Linked DNA regions of Homo sapiens: region 2 is linked to region 1. Evidence: fine-mapped expression QTL. Tissue or cell type: skeletal muscle. Region 1 holds a variant in brackets; the other region holds the start of a gene. All regions are shown on one strand. Distances are between the middles of the regions.

Region 1 (10,036 bases):
TCCGCCTGCTTCAGCTTCCCAAAGTGCTGGGATTACAGATGTGAACCACCACACCCGGCCAGATTTTAGTGATGTTAAAGATCTTTCTGAGTAGAGTTACTTTATTTTCACTGTGAATGATCACATTCACAACATGATCCTTATTCTTTTACTCGGACAACATTGAATAGTAATATTTATTAGGTATTTTATTATTCTTCTGATACAATTTTTTTTTTTTTGGTGTGGAAAATGAAAAAAAAAAGAGAAGTACAAAGAAAAAAACAAAAACCAGTCACCTGTATTCCCAGTACCTGGAGCTAATGATAGTGAATTTTTCGGTGTTCTTTTCTGACTTGTGCTGTGAAATATATATGCTCTGCCAGATTAGCTATCTGTAAAGTTATCTATCTATAAATAAAGTTTTGAGTCCTGGTTTATTCACTTGTAGGGGTATTTCTATATTAGAAATACTTCAGAATCTTGATTTTAAAAATCCAACTTCTGCATATATCATAGTTTATTCAGTAATTTTGGGTCTTTTTTGTTTCTGAAATTTTTTGTGATATAAATAATGCTCTGATGTATGAATGTCTAAATACGTCTCTTATTGGCTCTCTGGGCAGTTCTGTTTAGATCAATTCCAAGAAGGTATATTATTGGTATGTTATTATTGTACCCAGTTTTCCTTCCACCAACAGGGTATGAAATTGCCTGTTTCACTATATCCTCATGACACTGAATGTTAATTATCAAAAATGTTGAAACGGCTTTGCTGATCTTCAAAATATTAAGTCATGCATACTTATTGTAAAATATTCAGATAACATAAAAAGGTAAAATGCCAAAGATGATAAAAAAGTGACTGCGAATTCATGATCTAGGCATACTTATGTATTTGAGGTATAACTTTAGCGACATTTAATATAATACGGTACTTATAATCTTTTTTCCTTAGCACCTTCATGAGGGCACCTTTCTTTGCCAGCAAATACATGTCGTTTTTAATGACCACAATGTACTCTTTCTGGATATGTTCGTTTCTTTAACCTGTGGCTTCCTAGTGGACATTGAGGTTATTTCTGGTTTGCAGATTAGTAACAACACAGAGATTTGCACATCTTTGTACAGAAACCTACTGACTCTCTTAGGAAATTGTTAGATTTTGTTTCGATCTGTGGAGTAAGTTCTCTTATTTTTGAAAGTAAATGTGCCTTTCCCTAAGGTAGGATTAGACTTTCCTCCCCATAACATCACACTTGGCCATGTCACTTGCTCTGGCCAATTCAGTGAGAAGTGACTTGTGTAACTTTTGGCCAGAAGTTTTAAAATCCAGCGTATGATTTGCCATATCCTTTTTCCCCTCTTCCGGGCAACCCACAATTTTCCAGGTAGAGTTTTCTCCATCAGCCTGAGTCTTGCAAGGGAAAACAATGTGGAAAAAAGCTGCATGCCAACCATGTGGCATGAGCAGGAAGCAGACGTTTGTCGTATGCCATTGGGATGTGGAGATTGCTTGTTCTGCTGCACAGTCTAACTCAGCCTGAGTGCATATTAGCTAGTGGCTCCCTAGAGAGAGTGAACTTGCTTATTGTCATCACTTATGCATATGAATACTGCCTCAGCGTCCATCTGCTTGTCCTGTTCCCAGCTTGTCATGCTTGACTAACATATTTTGAGGCAGTCTTCACGCAGCTCCTGTTTTCATGTTCTGGGTAGATAAGACCCCATACCCTGAGCTGCTTGACCACATTACTTCTGCTTTAAGCCTCGGGAACCTGATAAGGTAACCCCCGAGTTCCTGTGCTGAGTCTCGTGCTTCCTTCAAATGAACTAATCCAACCGTGCTGTGGGAAACCCACCTAGGTAACCCCATAAAGGATCCAACCCACAGGCCCCTCCGTTTCTCGTTCCCCACCTGCTGGTCGAAGGAGCAGGTCCTGGATGGCTCCTCCCCTCTTCTCTTTGGTCTTGCCAGGGGTGCTGTCCTCTTCCTTCCAGACCTGTGAGTAGTAAACTTGATTCATTTTGCAGTCTGAGTGTCCCTCACTGTGCTGCACCTGACTACACCAAGCCTCACCATCTCACTTAACATTACAACACTGAAGCTTTCTAGCAAGGTAAGGGAGTACATTTCCTTCTACACTTTGCCAACACCAATTAATTTGACTCTGTTTACTCTTTTCCAACTTGTCAAAAAATGACACCTCACTTTTATTTGTGCATTTTTGTTGATTAGTGAGGCTGAGACATATTTCATATCACATGTTTACTAGCCCTTTGTATTTCTTTCTTTGAACTAATTTACCAATTCCTTTGTCAATTTTTTGATTAGTCTGTCTTATCTTCTTGAGGTCTAAGGATTTTTTTACATATGCTAAAGTTATTATATTCTGCCTTCTTTTTCTAATTTGTCATTTAAAAAATCTTGTTTGGGGTTTATAGAGTTTCCTGAATATGCGGCTTGATATCTCTTGTCAGTTTTGGAAAATTCTCTGCCATTATCTTGTCAAATATTGTTTTTGTTCCAATCCCTTTTTCTTCCTATCCTGTGACACCAAATTCACACACATTAGACCTTTTATACCATGCTGCCTGTGTATGTTATGCTTTTCTTCCTATCTTTTAAATCTTTTTTTTTTTTAATTTTCTGGGCATTTTTGATTAAACTTATCTTTTGATTCACTAATCATATCTTTACCCTAATCTACTATTTAATTGCTTTTTACATTCTTAATTTCAATTATGCTGTATTTCTAAAATTTTTGATTCTTTATTGATTCTAGTTCTGTAATAAAGTTCCTCATTTGTCATTATTTGCTTTTACATATTAGTTATTTTAAAGCTTGATCGTTCTAATTTCTGGATCTTCTGGGGATGTTTTCTATTTTCTGTTTTTCTCTTGGCCCTGTCTCCTGATACATCTGGTAATTTTTGGAATGCTAGACATTGTGTATGAAAATTGAAGTAGCACTAGATTGTGTTATCTTGTCCAGGGAGGATTTAGTTTGCTTCTGGCAGACAGAGTGGGACAGAAGATTGCAGTCTAGGTTGTAGTTTTTATAAGATCTGGCCTCTTTCTGGCCTGTCTTGTAGGATATAGCCCTTTTGGCTTCCTATAGAAATATGGCCTGGGCAGATCATGAATACCACTTTTGTCTCCTTAACCCAAGCTTATCCAACCCCTGGCCTGCGGGCCACATGAGGCCCAGGATGACTTTGAATGCAGCCCAACACAAATTTGTAGACTTTCTTAAAATATTTTGAGATGCGCGCGCGCGCGCGCGCGTGTGTGTGTGTGTGTGTGTTTTCAGCCAGTGTTAGTGTTAGTATATTTTATGTGTGGCCCAAGACAATTCTTCTTCCATTGAGGTCCAGGGAAGCCAAAAGATTGGATACCCCTCCCTGCAAACCCTCGAGAGTATGACCAACTCTGCTTAGCTCCTCCTACCCTTCACTACTGCTCTCTGCTTGGTTTCTCAGCACCCAGCCTTACTCAGCAAATGCCCTTAGGGAAAGCCATGAGAATGGAAGCTTATCTCAGGATTTCCGCCTTCTTTCTGGAATACAATCAGGCCTGCAAGTCCTGGTCGTCTTGGAAACTGGATGCCTCCAAATGGATATTTAGGGAAAAAAAGTATTCAGTTGTTCTCAGGGGAAAAGTGCCTCTGATTGAAGCCAGTTTCTCAGAGCTGAAAGTGAGAGTCCCTGTCATTTGCCTTTTTACTTTCTTTACACTGTTTTGCTGAGAAGGTTTAAATTTTTATACAGTCAGATGTATCTATTTCTTTATGGTTTCCGGCCTTGCTCTATTGCTTCAAAATGCTGTTTCTAAGCCAGGTTTATAGAAATAGTCATCTACATTTTTTTTAGTGGTTTTTTTTTTTTTTTGAGATGGAGTCTCATTCGGTTGCCCAGGCTGGAGTGCAGTGGCACCATGTGGGCTCCCTGCAACCTCCCCCTCCCAGTTTCAAGCAATTCTCCTGCCTCAGCCTCCTGAGTAGCTGGGACAACAGGTGCGTGCCACCATGCCTGGCTAATTTTTTTTGTACTTTTGGTAGAGACAGGATTTCACCATATTGGCCAGGCTAGTCTCGAACGCCTGACCTCTTGATCTGCCACCCTTGGCCTCCCAGAGTGCTGTCCCGCACCGAGCCTTTTTAGTGTTTTTATGATTGAATATTTAATGATTCATTTCAGCCTGAGATGTGAGATAAAGATCCAACCTTATTTTTTTTCCGTATGACTGGGACTTTTGTCCAGAACTATTAATGAATTCATCTTTTGTGAAGATCTGAAATGTAATATTTATTGTTAAGCATATGGTGTCTCATTAATATTTTAATTTACATTATTTTGCTTACTAGTAAGATTATGTATATTTTACATGTATTTACTGGCTTTTTGCTATTTTTTGGTTTTTCTACTCATTCCTTTACCCTTGAAAAATTGTACTCTTGGTGTATTTATGCTGATATTCAATATAATATTTCTGTTTAAATCATTCTGTGAATGTCACTAATCTTGATTGCTTTTTCATTTTTCTTTCAATTTTACTTATAATTTTGATATAAGGGAATATTGTATTTATATAGTAACTTACATTGTATATTTATTGTTATCTTATTATTTTTAGCTTTTGAATCTCTTTTCTCCATCAGTAAACTATTTTAGGATATAAGTATGTATGTATGTATGTATATATATTATACCCTTGACTTTTTAGTCCTTTTGTATTATCTTTTGATTTTATGGTGTGTGTGTGTGTGTGTGTGTGTGTTTACTGCTCAGTAATCAACTTTTCCAGCAATGTTGGTTGAGTCATCCATCACTGCCCAGATTGCTCCTTTAACACATGTTCCCCTTTAAAGACAGGGTCTTATTTTGGGCCATCTGCTTTATTTTCTTCTCACCAATTTGTGGGAAAACTTTATTCTTGTTAGTATTCTACTTTCCTTGTCTCTTATTTTTGTTAAACAGAGCATATATGTGATAGAAAATAGAATCCTGGCTGGGCGCGGTGGCGCCCATGCCTGTAATCCCAGCACTTTGGGAGGCCAGGGCGGGCGGATCACCTGAGGTCAGGAGTTTAAGACTAGCCTGGCCAACATGGTGAAACCCCATCTCTACTAAAAAAAAAAAAAAAAAAAAAAAAAAATTAGGTGGACGTGGTGGCGGCTGTAATCCCAGCTACTTGGAAGGCTGAGCATGAGAATCGCTTGAACCCGGGAGGTGGAGGTTGCAATGAGCTGAGCTGAGATTGCACCACTGCACTCCAGCCTGGGC[A/G]ACAGAGTGAGACTCTGTCAAAAAAAAAAAAAGAAGAAGAAAAAGAAAAGAAAATAGAATCCTGCAGATGAGCTTGCAGTGAGAGACCCCAGGCTTCTTGGCCACCTGTCTGCTCCTCAGAGCTGTCTCTTGCCACTGTTCCCACTTTCATTTCATCTGGCAGTCCCCTCCCTGCCAGTTGCAACCTGCTCATCATAGCTACTCTTGGTTTGTCCATTTGAGGCAGTGGAGATGATTGTGTGCAATGGTAGTGGAGTTTTTTGCTGACTTGCCCTTTTCACCCCTCTGATCAGACCCATCCACCCATCCTTTTTCATATGTATTCTTTTAGTTTCTTATATATGTTATTTCAACCCCAGTTCCTTCTCCATCAATTCTAGCTGGTATTTCCTGACTTCTCCTCTGTTAGGTAAGGACCTTCCTAACCTTTTCCCACCACCCCGTATCCACCCCTCATATTGTCTTCGCTAGCTTTCCACTTACGAGACTAGTAACATTTTCTTGGATCTTAATTATGCTTATTATTTCAACTTTATCTATAGTTTGATTCTAAAAGTAGAAAACAACTAACCCTTATATTATAACACTACAGCTATTATTAGTTGAGTCAACTGGCATAATAGGACTCTCTTTTTTTCTGTGCAGTAACATATTTTAAATTATTATCGCAGATAATATATTTTGCTCTGTTTACTTTTTTTTAAAGCATTAGCTATTAACTCTTTTAAGAAAAAACAAAATAAAGCAAAAACCTGTACCATCAATGAATGTACGACCCCATCTGCAATGACAGAATACTTTCCTCCCCTTTAGACACTGGATATTTGAGTGGGGAGCTTCTCAAAGGGGTCATCTACACATTTGTTGTATGACATTTACTTTTTAGTGCCTTAACTTGCCTTGTACTGTACCTCACCTCTGTCTCAGTCGACACCCTACCCTGCTCATCCCAACCCCACCCTGGGTCAACCTCCTGTTCACCATGACTCCAGCCCAACTCCTCCAACCCTAGCTCACCTCCAGAGCTCTGAGTCTTCACCTCTCCAGCCTCTCTCCAACCTCTTCTCCTCCCGGGCAGGGGGGCTAACATCAGACCCCGACTCAATGACCCACTCACTCCCCAACCCCTCACCCTGGCTCAACTTCCCTGACCCTGGCTCACCTGGATCCCCATTCCAGCACAACCCCCACCCCTCTCAACTCACTTACCCTCACCCCCTCATGAACCCTCTGCCATTTAAGGATAGTTCATCTCCTTTTCTGCTGCAAGACTACTCTTGGCTGTTGAGCTACAGTTTTTTCAGACCCAAGGCCTGTGCTGTCTCTGAGCCGAATTCTGGTCCCGTGGCAAGGCAGAACCTGTCCCAGAGTCTCTGCAGTGAGCAAAGCCTAGAGACTCAACAGCGAGGAGTAACCACATGTGGGAGCTGTCAGCTCACGGGGATTTTCTCTCCTCTCCAAGGGCAGGAATTCTCTTCATTGTCACAGACCTATTCCTTATTTAAAGCTTTTTTTCACTCTTATTCAGGGAGGGATGTTTAAAGAGATCATGTATTTATTGATTGATTGATCTCCAATACTGCAGAAAATATGCATTTTAAAAACACACATCCTTCTTTTTTTTTTTTTTTTTTTTTTTGAGACAGGGTTTCTTGCTCTTGTTGCCCAGGCTGGAGTGCAATGCCCACCACAACCTCCGCTTGCCGGGTTCAAGCGATTCTCCTGCCTCAGGCTCCTGAGGAGCTGGGATTACAGGCATGCGCCACCACGCCCGGCTAATTTTTGTATTTTTAGTAGAGACAGGGTTTCTCCATGTTGGTGAGACTGGTTTTGAACTCCCAACCTCAGCTGATCTGCCCTCCTCGGCCTCCCAAAGTGCTGGGATTACAGGTGTGAACCACCACGCCCAGCCAAAAACACATTCTTCTTTCTACTTGTTATTCCCTTCGTGCATGCACTCATCCCCATGCATGCCGAGGGCACATGTTCTGGAAGGCCCCTGGGAGCCACATGGGGTTCACGACCTCAAAACTGAAGCCCTCAGAGGGTATTTGATTCATTAGGTGGGGTAAGACATGAACCTAAGAAGAACGACTCCTTGAAAGAAAATGAGGTAACAGGAAAGGAATTCACTGATACATGTCAGGAACCCAGAGCTGCCTGCGATGTGGGTGGGATTCGGCACTGGGAAACCTTGTGTGTGGGTCCTTCGGGGAAAGTGGGAGTTGACTGCCGTTGAGCGGGTAGGAAAGTGCCTTCCAGGTACAGGCAGCAGGAGTGGTGATTGTCTTGGTAGAGGATGGGTGAACTGCAAATAGAGTTGAAGGAGCTGGGCTGAGTAGTTGGGATTTCACTCCCCGGGTGATTGGTGGGACCCAGCAGGGCCAGTCCTGGGCTTTTCCTATGGCAAGTAACTCAAGAGCTGCAGGAGCAGATGTTGTTAAGCAGAGAGGAAACACCAAACATGGATCCCTATCTCTAGCGAGTGTGCCCTGTGACTGTGGAGGGTGGAGGGGAGTCACGCCAGAGGGAGGTGCTGTGTTGGGGCCAGACCGGAGGGTTACATCCTGAGCAGGAGAGGAGGGAGGAGGCCAGGTGGAGGAGCGGCCTGGGGGACATAGGTGGTTGTGGTGCTAGATTGGCAGTGGATTTTTTTCTGAAGGCTGCCGTAACAAATGACCACAAAGTAGGTGGCTTAAACATCAGAAATTGATTCTCTCACAATTCTGGGGGGCAGATGTCTGAAGTCCAGGTGACAGCAGGGCCACGCTCCCTCTGGCAGAGCTGGGAATTCTGCGGTCTGTGACAGCATCGCTCCAATCTCTCTCTGTCCTCATCTGTCCTCTGCACATCTGTGTCTCAAATCTCCAGGATGATCTCATCTTAGGATCCTTAATTATGATCTATAAAGATGCTATTTCCCAACAGAGTCTCATTCACAGCGACCGGGGTTAGGATGTGGACATGTCTTTTCTGGGCGATACATTTCAACCTACTACAGGCAGTTACCTGAAGGAGTAACTGAAGGAGAGGGGTTCAGAATCCTCCAGTGGGGCCTGATGGGCAGAGGAGAGACTTGGACACCCTTAAGAGACGAAATGAATCTTCAGAGGTTCAGCCATTGCTTGCAATGTCATCTTCTGGGCTCATCCCTGCACTCCAACCCTGGACATTTTCTCTGGTCTTTTCTAGTGGCCACCATCTGGATGATTACGACTCTGGAAATCTCTGTCCATCATCCATTTTTTTGCCTCCTCTGTGAACGAGCAGGTGTGATGGCCTGAAAACAGAGAGGGAGAAGGCTGAGTGTACCAGGGCAGGGGAAGCGCTTCCTGGAATTACGTGTCCCAGGACAAAAGTGAAACTGCCTTCGCTGACTCATAGGAAAGTTTGAAAATATCATGTTTCGCCTATGCCTGGGGGATCTTTGTTTTTGGCATAAGCCGAACAGATTGTTCCAGGCCAGAAAAAAACTAAGCCAAACCAAAACAACAGAATGACTTAATTATGTACCAGCACCCTTTAAAATTAATTATGCTTGCTTTCTTTTTGTCCCCCTCAACTTTTAGTTTAAGTTCTGAGGCACATGTGCAGGATGTGCAGGTTTGTTACACAGGCAGTGTGCCATGCCCATTGTGGTTTGCTGCACAGATCAACCCATCAGCTAGGTATTAAGTGCAGAATTCTTTAGCTATTCTTCCTGATGCTCTCCTGCCTCACACCCCCTGATAAGCCCCTGTGTGCATTGATCCCCAACTGTGTGTCCATGTGTTCTCATCGTTCAGCTCCCACTTATAAGTGAGAACATGCAGTGTTTGTTTTTCTGTTTCTGCATTAGTTTGCCAAGGATAATGCCTTCCAGCACCATCCATGTTCCTGCAAAGGACATGGTCTTGTTCCTTTTTATGGCTGCATAGTATTCCATGGTATATAAGATTATGTAAAGAGATCGAACCTACAACTGATTGGCGTACCTGAAAGACATGGGGAGAATGGAACCAATTTGGAAAACATAATTCAGGATATCATTTGTGAGAACTTCCCCAACCTAGTAAGACAGGCCAACATTTAAATTCAGGAAATGCAGAGAAACCCAGTAAGATGCTCCATGAGACCATCAACCCCAAGACACATCATCATCAGATTCTCCAAGGTTGAAATGAAAGAAAAAATGTTAAGGGCAGCCAGAGAGAAAGGCCAGGTTACCCACAAAGAGAATCCCGTCAGACTAACAGTGGACCTCTCAGCAGAAACCCCACAAGCCAGAAGAGATTGGGGGACAATATTCAACATTCTTAAAGAAAAAAAAATTCCAACTCAGTTTCATATCCAGCCAATCTAAGTATTCATAAGTGAAGGAGAAATAAGATCCTTTTCAGAAAAGCAAATGCTGAGGGAATTTGTCACCATCAGGCCTGGCTTGCAAGAGCTCCTGAAGGTAGCACTAAATATGGAAAGGAAAAAAACACTCCCAGCCACAACACACTGAAGTACACAGACAAGTGACACTATGAGGCAACAACATAAACAACTCTGCAAATAACCAGCTAGCATCGTGATGACAGGATCAGACTCACACATAGCAATATTATCCTTAAATGTAAATTGGCTGAATGTCCCAATTAAAAGACACAGAATAGCAAGCTGGGTAAAGAGTTAAGACCCATCAGTGTGCTTTCTTCAAGAGACTCATCTCACATGCAAAGACACATGTAGGCTGAAAATGAAGGGATGGAGGAAAATTTACCAAGCAAGGGGAAAACAGGAAAAA
Region 2 (10,036 bases), 27 kb before region 1:
GAGACTAACTCTGGAAAGCTTTCGTCAACGACAATGAAAACAACAGCAGCAAAAGAAATTATCAGACGGTTGTTATCTCATGAGATCTACTTTGGATTAGTGCTGTCATGTTCCCCTCCAAGCATTCACACAGGAATGTGGTCATGTCATTTCTAGAACAGTATGAAGACAAGTAGGATCTTTACAGCCCTGAGTCTTCCCATCTGAGCTTGAGGTCTGGCTCTCCCAGTCTCTCTCACTGAGAACAATTTTTACACATAATACTGGGGTTTAAAAAGCTCAAGCCACTTGAGGTGGGATGTTTTTCTGAGGAAATACCTGGACAAGGGTGCATTTGTGTCCACTAAGGAAAATGTTGGAAATACCCTAAACATCAAGAATAGGAGATTGGTACCCCCACAGTAACAGACATTCAAAATCTAGAACTATTATCATTGTAACTTAGCAGTGGTAAAGCCATAATTGGAAGCCAGCCTGTCTGATATCACTATCTGGTCTTCACCCCAAGCTGCACTGCCTTCTATACACATTTCTCATTCACTTCACCTGGGCTAGCTCTCTCGGCAAATAAGGCAATGAATCTGGAGAAGCAGGTCCTACAGAACAATTTATATCAAGGCGAATGGATACTTTAATTTTCATACTAATGAAAGTTAACACTGTTGCTAAATTCCAGACAATGTGAGAAGGTTTTAAATCACTCTCTCCTTCAGTTCTTCATTTAGCCTTGGGAGATGGGAACTGGTTATTTTATTTTCTTCTTTGGTGAGGGATGGCGTCTCACTCTGTCATCCAGGCTGGAGTACAGTGGCACAATCTCAGCTCACTGCAACCTCCGCCTCCCAGGTTCAAGCAATTCTCCTGCCTTAGCCTCCCGAGCAGTGGGGAATATAGGCATGCAGCACCATATCTGGCTAATTTTTGTATTTTTAGTAGAGATGGGGTTTCACCATGTTGGCCAGATTGGTCTCGAACTCCTGACCTCAAGTGATCTGCCCACCTTGGCCTCCCAAAGTGCTGGAGCTAGTTATTTTATGAACACTGTGGTGCACTTGTGTGCTCCTCCACCACTAGGTTCCCCCTGCCTCCCTCCTTCCAAACCAAGGTGGGGCAGGCCCTATAGGTGCATGCAGTTTTCTCTCTCTTCAAGATAAACATACTGCTTGTAATTTTGAAAGGCATGTTACAGACATATAACTGAGCTAGTGCTGAATTTTTAAAAAATGGTCCAAAGACAAATTATTCAACTAAATGAACAAATTGTGTAATTGCTATGTATATCTTTCAAAATCATAACAAAATAATTCATTGAAACTTGACAGTCGGATAAAATATAATTTCTCAGTACTTCTCTTTTTGTTTTGAGACAGGGTCTCACTCTGTTGCCCAGGCTGGAATGCAGTGGCACCATCAGGGCTCACTGCAGCCTCGACTTCCCCCTCAAGTAGCTGGGACTGCAGGCACACGCCACCACACTAGGCTATATTTTGTATGTTTTGCAGAGATGGGGTTTCACCACGTTGCCCAGGTTGGGCTTGAACTCCTGGGGCTCAAGGGATCCGCTAGACTCAACCTCCCAAAGTTTTGAAATTACAGGTGTGAGCCACCACACCTGGCCTCAGAATATTAATTTAAGTTATCCTGAGTCGGCAGTTTTGATAAGCTACTTTCTCCTACCTATGCAGATTTTGTACATATAATAAATGTTGGCTTTACTAAAAATGCCTATGCCTGATTTTGTGTCTTTTTTTTTTTTTTTGGTGTTTTGTTTTGTTTTGTTTTTGAGACGGGGTCTCGCTCTGTCGCCCAGGCTGGAGTGCAGTGGCACAATCTCTGCTCACTGCAAGCTCCGCCTCCCGGGTTCACGCCATTCTCCAGCCTCAGCCTCCCCAGTAGCTGGGGCTACAGGCGCCCGCCACTGCGCCCAGCTAATTTTGTTTTTGTATTTTTGGTAGAGACAGGGTTTCACCATGTTAGCCAGGATGGTCTCGATCTCCTGACCTCGTGATCCGCCCGCCTCGGACTCCCAAAATGCTGGGATTACAGGCGTGAGCCACCGCGCCCGGTCGATTTTGTGTTTCTTTTAGCCCATCTTCCAGAAATGTCCAGACTCTACTGTCTTTGTTGTAAAAGAAGCATATTTTATTTTTTATTTATTGTTTCTTCTTAGCGGTTTATTTTTAAAAGACAGGAAAATGATCAGCTTGCATCCTGAATCGGACCACTTACTTATAAACGATAGTTCTTCTTTGAAGCAGACGATGACATTTTAGTTTATATTTAAGGGGAAACACATTCAAATGCTATTTGGACTCAAATTTCTAAGGAAGAAAAGGAAGTGGTAAACTCTGAAGATAGAACCTCAATTCCCTTGCTGAGTGACGCGGTCAATGAGCACCAATCGCCTACGGGAGGCCAGAAAAGGCTGCGTGGTGCTCCCCTCTCAGGGCCTGGCCCTGTCCACCTGGGCCTTGGTGACCCGCAGCCGGGACTCTTGCTGTAAAGTGACGCAGTGCTCTCCCTGGGAGGACAGTGGGTCCAGCAAACCCAACTCAGCCCTCAGGGGGCACTTGAAATTGTAACTACCCCAGGCCTTTGGAAACAACCCTCAACCTTGAAAGGGGAAATTCCCAGTGGGAATTGATGCAAACTGTGGTCAGTTACACAAAAAGGTAGAGTTTACTGTAATCTGGGGGCTATTTTTGGTTGCAGAAAGAATCCCCGGAGTAGAGAAGGAGGCCAGCGAGTCTCAGTTCGCTGCTCGCTCAGAGCCGCCCAGGTGCGAGGGCGTCTTCACCAGAAATCGGTGCTCCCGCGCGCCCCACCCTCCGGGGCCCTGCAGATGCCGGGTCGGGGGCCGCCAGCAGGCCCTTTGGCTCCTGCTGGAGACACTGGAAGACCAGGCGACCAGGACAGCGGGTCGGGCCAGTGCGGTGTGACACGAGGGCTCGAGCGGCTTCGCAGTTTAAACGTGTCCTCATCCTACACCTCCCACGGCTGTTTCGGATTCGGTGCCCTCGTGCCCCTCAGCTTGCCCAGCGGCACGTGGGCCTCAAGCCTGGTCCCCAGCGGCTGCGCCAGCCTAGCTGTGTTCACCTTGGGGCCGCGAGGGCCTCCCACCGGCTGGCAGCTGGTGGACACGCTGTCAAGATCGGGGGAAAAAAAGGAAGGAAGGAGGCTAGGGGGACACAGGGCTGGTGGCCTCCGCAGTCTTTGACCTGCGACGGGCGCGAGCGCACCTCCGCGCCTTTGCGCAGAGACCTTCCCCCAAGATTGGCTCACGACGCCTCCTACCCCGAAGTCAAGGGCTCCCTGTGGCAAATCCTCACACGCCCTCCTCCTCCCCGCCCATCCCCGGCGCCAGGACTGACGGGGAGAGGGCAAGGCCGGGCCAGAGGGGCTGTGGGCCTGGACTGCGGCTGTCGCCCGCGGCCCTGCTCTTTTGGGCAGCCAGACGTGGGGTCAGCGCCCAGTCGCAGCCTCCGGGGGTGAGTCCGCAGATCCCCGCACGTGACACAGGCCAGGCATGGGGACGGGGAGTTCCTCGTCGTCCGTTCCCACTCAGATGCTCCCTGAGGTTCCGGAACACCCCGCCCCCCATCCCAGGATCTGACCAACCCTCAAGCCACGGCCGGCCCCGGTTCCGCGAGACGGGGGACTCTGAGGATTGTCCTCCCTTCCGGGCTGGGACTCCCCCACAGCAGCCGACCGCCCCCAGTTCAGAGTGGCCCGGCCCGCAGCGCTCCCCGGGCACAGGTCCCAGGTGGACGGCTCCGCTCCCGCGCCCGGCTCCTCTGCCCGCCAAGCGCCCCGGGGATTCCCCGGCCTCCAAGCGGCCGCGGCCGGGTGGAGTCAGCCCCGAAGCCCGGGATCCCCCGAAGGGAGAAAACCCGCTCTGCTCCTCTGAAGCGGCGGGAGAAACCGGCCCCACCCAGGTCCGGGGGCCCGACGCCCTCGGCGGAGGCCGGCTCCAGGGGTCCGAGGTTCCCGAAGCTGGAGGCCGGCTCCGCCCCGGCGTCCCCCCGCCGCCACCTCCGCCCCCATCCCGCGGGCCGGCGGAGGGAGGGGCGGGGCCGCTTGCCGCCCGCGACTCGGGTTCGGCTTCTTTAGTGATTGCTTCTGCTTCTCCCGCGCCAGCTGTCCCCAGCTCTGGGGCAACGCTGCCAGGTGCCCAGTCCCCGCGCTCGAGAGAGCGCCTGCCTGGCTCTGAACTCTGGCCAGGAAGGGGCGCGAGGGGAAGGCCCCGGGGGAAGGCGTGTCCCCGCGCCCCGCCCCGCCCCGCCTCGGAAAGCCCCCGCGGTCCCGCCCACCCCAGGGGCTCGCTCAGCCTCCGGAGACTTTTTTCTTTGAGCGCAGCCGCCTGGTGCCGGTTTCCGCCGAGCTGGAGCGCGCGGGCCACGGCTTCTCTGGGGACGCAGAAGCGAGAAGCGGGGACCTCGGCGCGCGCCCCGCGTCCCGCTCTTCCTGCCCGCGCCCCGGCCCCCGGCCCGCGCCCCGGCCGCCGGCATGGTGCTGCTGGCCGGGACCGGGCCGGAGGGCGGCGGGGCGCGCTGCATGACCCCACCACCGCCGTCCCCACCCCGGGGCGCGCAGGTCGAGGAGGACCCCGCTGACTACGAAGAGTTTGAGGACTTCTCGAGTCTGCCAGACACCCGCAGCATCGCCTCGGACGACTCTTTCTACCCTTTCGAGGACGAGGAGGAGCACGGCGTCGAGAGCGCGGAGAGCGTCCCGGAGGGCGTCCCGGAAAGCGTCCCGGAGACGGCGACCCTCCTGCGCGCCGCCTGCGCCAACAACGTGGGGCTGCTGCGGACGCTGGTGCGGCGCGGGGTGAGCGTCGAGGAGGCGCAGGAGACTGACCGCAACGGCAGGGTAAGCGGGCGTCCCCGCAGGATTTGAGCCCCCTCACTGCCCCCACTCCCCTCCTCCCCACCACATCCCCGCGCCTCCCAGCTCCTGGCTCCGGACCGGTCCCTCGGTCACTCAGCCGCCGCCCAGAGCGCCTTTTCCCCGCTGTTTGGGAGCGCGGTGCCCTGGGTGGCTTCCCCGTCTCAGGCTGGGGGACGCGGTGCGGGGAGGGAGCAGTCGAGGTGTCAGCGCGGCAGAAACGCCAGTCCGGCGTCCTCACCGCATCCCCTTCTCGTTTACCGGTCCCCGTGGACCTCCTGACTGAATTCGCGCTGGCTGCCCGTGCTGCAATCCAGGATGGGCTTCTTGCGGCCCGGTCCCCTCCTGACTATTACCTTTCCCCAGGTCCCTGGCAGGGGACCATTCCTCCTCCCCTGCAGGAGACAGCCCCTCCTGCCCAGCGCCCCATTTGGCCCCTGGGCCCCTCGCGCCGCCCTTGTCCTAACACGCTGGGGCGCAGATCGGCTCCTCCAGCCGCAATGATTTGGAAGCAACAGTTTCTTCCCTCGCCGGGACAGCTTGGTCCCCTACCCCACCTCCGCTGAGCTTTGTGGCCCGCGCCGCGACCAGCCAACGTGATCTCTGACTGGTCTGTCCGCAGGTCACCTTCGCGAGCCAATGCCAGCCGGGGCTCCCCAGAGTCAGGGCATAGGGAGAGCCCCAGAGCCGCGGGCATCCACCCGGGTAGGGCAGGAGGCGTGGAGGCAGGCACAGGCTATCCTTTCGTTATGACCAGATTCAGAGAAAACGAGATGTTTAGAAAAGAAAAGAAAAGAAAGGAAAAGAAAAAAAGTTGGCTTAAGAAGACCTGAGAAGGACTGGCTGGTGGAACACCTTCCACCAAGCAAAGCACTTCAAGGGAAAACTGCAGAGTGACCACGGTGGCCAAGTTCCCCGTAGTCTGTGCTCAGTGGGCAAATGGCAGCGTTCTCACCTGATTTTTGTATTGTCCAAGGACCGTGGTATCTGCAGATGCAGCCTAGCACAAATGCACATGCTTTTTGCTCAGGAGCCTGCAGCTGACAGAAAACATGTGCTTTGACTTGGGGACCCGGGTGACCTTGTGCCTTTGGTTTATCCTGCAGTGGGTGGGGCAAGTGGTTTGCCCTGACTGTGGTTTGGGCTGGGCTTAGGTGGATGGGAAGCCCTCCAATGTCACTCTCCCCTTGTACTACATTGCCCCCGTGATTCAATTACCTCCCACCGTGTCCCTCCCACAACACGTGGGAATTCAAGATGAGATTTGGGTGGGGACACAGCCAAACCATATCACACAACATTTGAACTTGGAGGAAGGGTCTGTGCTTGTCATATGTTAGGCAGTGAGACCTGAGGTGGCGTCCCCGTAGGTAGCATCACCTGGAGCCCTGTAGTTCCTGCTGCCATTCCTCTTGCAATGCCTCCTCCCCCAGCCCTGGCGACAGATGCCCTGGCTGGCATGTGATTAGGGCTTGGAGCTCCACCCGAAGTCCTAGGGCCTGTTTCTCAAGTTCTACATTTGGTTTAACTGAGTTTTCAGGCCCAGATGTGTGTAATCAGAAACCTTGCTTTCTGGAAGCCAGTATGGGGGCCCGCTTTAAAGGAAGCCTCACCAAGCTCATAAAGGAACAGGTGGGGTGGGCCTCTCCCCCTGTCCTGGGCAGCCTGGTGGTCTCCAGTGGGCTGGAATGGGCACAGGAGGGGCCTGGCTCGCCCAGTCCCCACTCTAGGGCACCACTGGGCTCAGCTTTATATAATGTTTCCTTTAGGGGCAAAACATAAATGTTTGAAAACAGCTGCATTGAAGAAAACTGACAGCAACGTAAACCATCCCCAGGGGCTCGAGCCTAACAGACTGAGTCTCCAGGCCACACAGCAGAGAGGCAGGGGAGGGCCGTGGTATGGGAGGCTAGCTCCAGCCTCCCAGCAGCTCTCTGCCTCAGTTTCCTCGTCTGTAAAATAGGGATAAGGGCAGCCTCTCCTCTTAGGATGTGAGCATAAAATGGCTTAGTGCCCACAAGGCTCTGGGAAGGCCTGGCCCCAGGCTTGTGTTTACCATCGTGTTTCTCATTCGTCTGCCTTCTCTTGGCTTGGAAGAGAGCACCTTCCAGTTTTATTTTGTTTTGTTTTGTTTTTTGTCTTCTGCCAGGCAAGGCTTTTTCTCTCGCTGCTTTTCTTCCCCTTTGATTACAGCAGAAGTGAAGACTTTGTTTCTCTGTGTCACGTAAAATAATGATGTAGGCCCGGACATAGCCTGCTAACTTAGAGACCCTTGGACTCTTTCATCTTTGGATCAGACGGAGCAGGGCTTGTGTTCTGTGCTTTGTGAGGCCAGTGGGGGGAGCGAGGCAGGAGCCTCCATTCTTTTCATTAGCTTCTCAAGGCTGTTGATCAAACAGCCTCTATCTTCCTGAAAAACAGCTGAAAGAATCAAGTGTGGCAAAGCCCTGATGCCCTGCTCTGTGGTAAATGGAGTGAGTCATTGCCAAAGTGTTTACCGCAGACCTACTGTGCTCCCGCTAGGTACTTTAGCAGACTCAAAACTGAATCTGGCAGTCCCTGCCTTTGAAGAGTCCTAGCCTTTTAGTGAGGAGAAGAACTTGCAGAGGAAGAGCGGCTAGCTGAGACCTAGGAAACTGGGAGACGGACTGCTTTTCACATGACGGTGTCCGGTCTCCCCGACGGCAGTGTGGGTCACTCCCTCTCTGTCTGCAGGCTCCTGGTTTAAGGGCACCTTCCCTGGGAGGCTTTTCTGTCTCCTCTTGTCCAAGCCTACAGAACCTGGAGCTGAGCAAGGGTAATGTAGGCATTCACACATTTAGGGCTGAAATTATAAATAGGATGGTCATTTAGAGAGCAGGTGACGTTTGAGCAGAGACGGCATCTAGGGGAAAGAGGAGTTAGACGGAGGGAACAGTGTGTGCAAAGACTGAGGTGGGAACCTCGTTGGAGCCTGGTCTCCAAGCTTATCATGATTAGTGGCAGTGAAAACCTTAAAGAAGGCCCGGACAGCTTTGGTGCAGTGGAGGGGTAATTGCATTAATGACAGAATGACAGCTCACAGATACAGCCCACAGCCGGCTTTCTAGGAGGAAATGATCTCTAAAGGCGTCTAAACTTTTCTGGGACATGCTTGTTGAGCTCTTCATCTCTGGGCATTTAAGAAGGGAGCTTTGCCTGAGCTGACAGGCATTCCATTTGGTCTGGGTAACTAAGGGTCAGATGTGTTTTGTTTAAGAAAATGCATTCTCTCCTGCCTCCTGAGATTGGTAGAATGTTGGATGTGGCTCAGCACACCATTTTCCTTCTAAAATATTTATTGCTCTAAAAGCATTGCATGATTTAATATGCAACATGTAAATATTTGTCAGATAATTGCCCAATAACATTCAAAGCTTGCTTCCAATGTCTTCTGGATTTATGGTTGTTTTGTTCCTTCTGACTTGAGGCAGTGCAAGCTGCCATAATTCTTTTTCTTAATTCTTCTCTTCCACTTACTATCACCTGAAGTTCACCTTTATGGCCTTGGCGGCTCTTGAGATGACAGTGAAAACACACAAAGTGTGTTGTTTTAATTGTTGCAGAAGGGCAGTTTAAATGTCAGACAGCTCTTGGACTTAATTAGGCCCAAATACATGCTCAATTTAAAATACTGCACTCCTGTCCTGATGGGATTCTGCTTCTGCGTGTTCGTGTTTGTTTTTGAGACTGAGTCTTGCTCTGTCACTCAGGCTGGAGTGCAGTGGCGCAATCTCTGCTCACTGCAACCTCCGCCTCCGGGGTTCAAGTGAATCTCCTGCCTCAGCTTCCCACATACCTGGGATTACAGGCGTGCGCCACCACGCCCGGCTAATTTTTGTATTTTTAGTAGAGACAGGGTTTCATCATGATGGCCAGGCTGGTGTTGAACTCCTGACCTCAAGTGATCCTCTTGCTTGGCCTCTGAAAGTTCTGGGATTACCGGTGTGAGGCACCGCGCCTGCCCTGCTTCTGCGTGTTTAAATTTCCAGGGTCTCTTGGTTACGTTTTCCAAAGGCCCCTCCATTGGTTTGTTTTGTTAGGTCAGCAAAGCCCACATCACACCCAGTGTGGGTGTTTCCCTTTACTCTTGAGGTGCTTAAAATTAAAACTTAATTTTCATAGATTTATAGCGATGATCAGGGCTTTATCTTGAAATGTATGTGAGAAAGTTTTTATTTATTTATTTTTTTAATACTTCCGAAAGATTTATAAGCTCCAGAATCACTTTTCCCCAAAAATGAGAATCCAGTTATTGCAACAGCCCTCCGTCTTTACCAGGCCTCGGTGCTCATGGCCTGCGTGTGCACAGCAACGGGCTGACTAGCATAGAAAGTGACTTCTCTGGTTCTTGTTAGTTACCATAGAAAGTGAATTCTGGCCTCAGGCCTCTGTATGCTTGCGGAGGGCCTGCAAGCACAAGCTTTGCTTTTTAGGAATGTATGTTAGGCTGGGCGTGGTGGCTCCTTCCTGTAATCCCAGCACTTTGGGAGGCCGAGGCAGGCAGATCACTTGAGCCTAGGAGTTTGAGAACAGCCTGGGCAACATGGTGAAAGCCCATCTCTAAAAAAATACCAAAATTAGGCAGGCATGGTGGTGGACGCCTGTAGTCCCAGCTACTGGGGAGGCTGAGGCAGGAGACTCGCTTGAGCCCAGGAGGTGGAGGTTGCAGTGAGTTGAGATTGCACCACTGCGCCCCAGGCTGGGCGACAGAACAAGACCCGTGTTTGAAAATAAATAAATAAATAAATAAATAAATAGAGGCATGTATGCTAGTGTTTTAGTTGCATCTCCAAATTCTGAACTGTGAGAAAGCGGGTGAGGAGGGCAAATTGAGCAGAATCCTAGACCGGGAGTCCGAGGGGCTGGAGTCAGAGGAGGTCTCAGCTGAAATGGGCTTGGCGATGGGTGGGCTGGCAGATGTCTGCCTCTTCCTCTTCTGCTGACCGTGGTGGGGAGCATTCTGAGTCTAGCAGCAGTAGAGAGGCCCATGTGTTTTTTGTTTGTTTGTTTTTGTTTTTTTGTTTAGAGATGGAGTCTCGCTCTGTCACCCAGTCTAGAGTGCAGTGGTGTGATATCAGCTCACTGCAACCTCCGTCTCCCAGGTTCAAGCGATTCTCCCGACTCAGCC

Alleles and levels. Alleles are on the strand shown, and positions count from the first base shown. SD is a standard deviation of normalised expression in the study named.
In carriers of allele A in region 1, the expression in skeletal muscle of the gene that starts at base 4,109 in region 2 tends to be higher than with G alone (moderate effect, 0.45 SD a copy in GTEx).

Evidence for each region. PIP is the estimated chance that this variant, and not a neighbour inherited with it, causes the effect.
Region 2: it holds the start of ANKRD33B, and the variant in region 1 is fine-mapped to the expression of ANKRD33B in skeletal muscle (GTEx, PIP above 0.99).

Annotation. Positions count from the first base shown.
Region 1 is chr5:10,587,341-10,597,376 of GRCh38, forward strand. The region is part of intron 1 of ANKRD33B (ankyrin repeat domain 33B); the gene reads left to right. Among named protein-coding and RNA genes, the nearest start is that of ANKRD33B, 28 kb to the left of the region's middle. RefSeq lists a silencer at 1,557-1,851 and enhancers at 1,557-1,851, 7,872-9,071, 8,299-8,358. The variant A/G (reference allele first, on the strand shown) is at 5,266.
Region 2 is chr5:10,559,962-10,569,997 of GRCh38, forward strand. ANKRD33B (ankyrin repeat domain 33B) reads left to right here and starts at 4,109. Exons shown (of 4, transcript NM_001164440.2): 1 at 4,109-4,872. The coding sequence starts at 4,507. RefSeq lists silencers at 3,693-4,552, 4,893-4,942, 5,913-5,962 and enhancers at 4,172-5,066, 5,067-5,960, 5,083-5,292, 5,613-5,662, 5,683-5,772 and 3 more.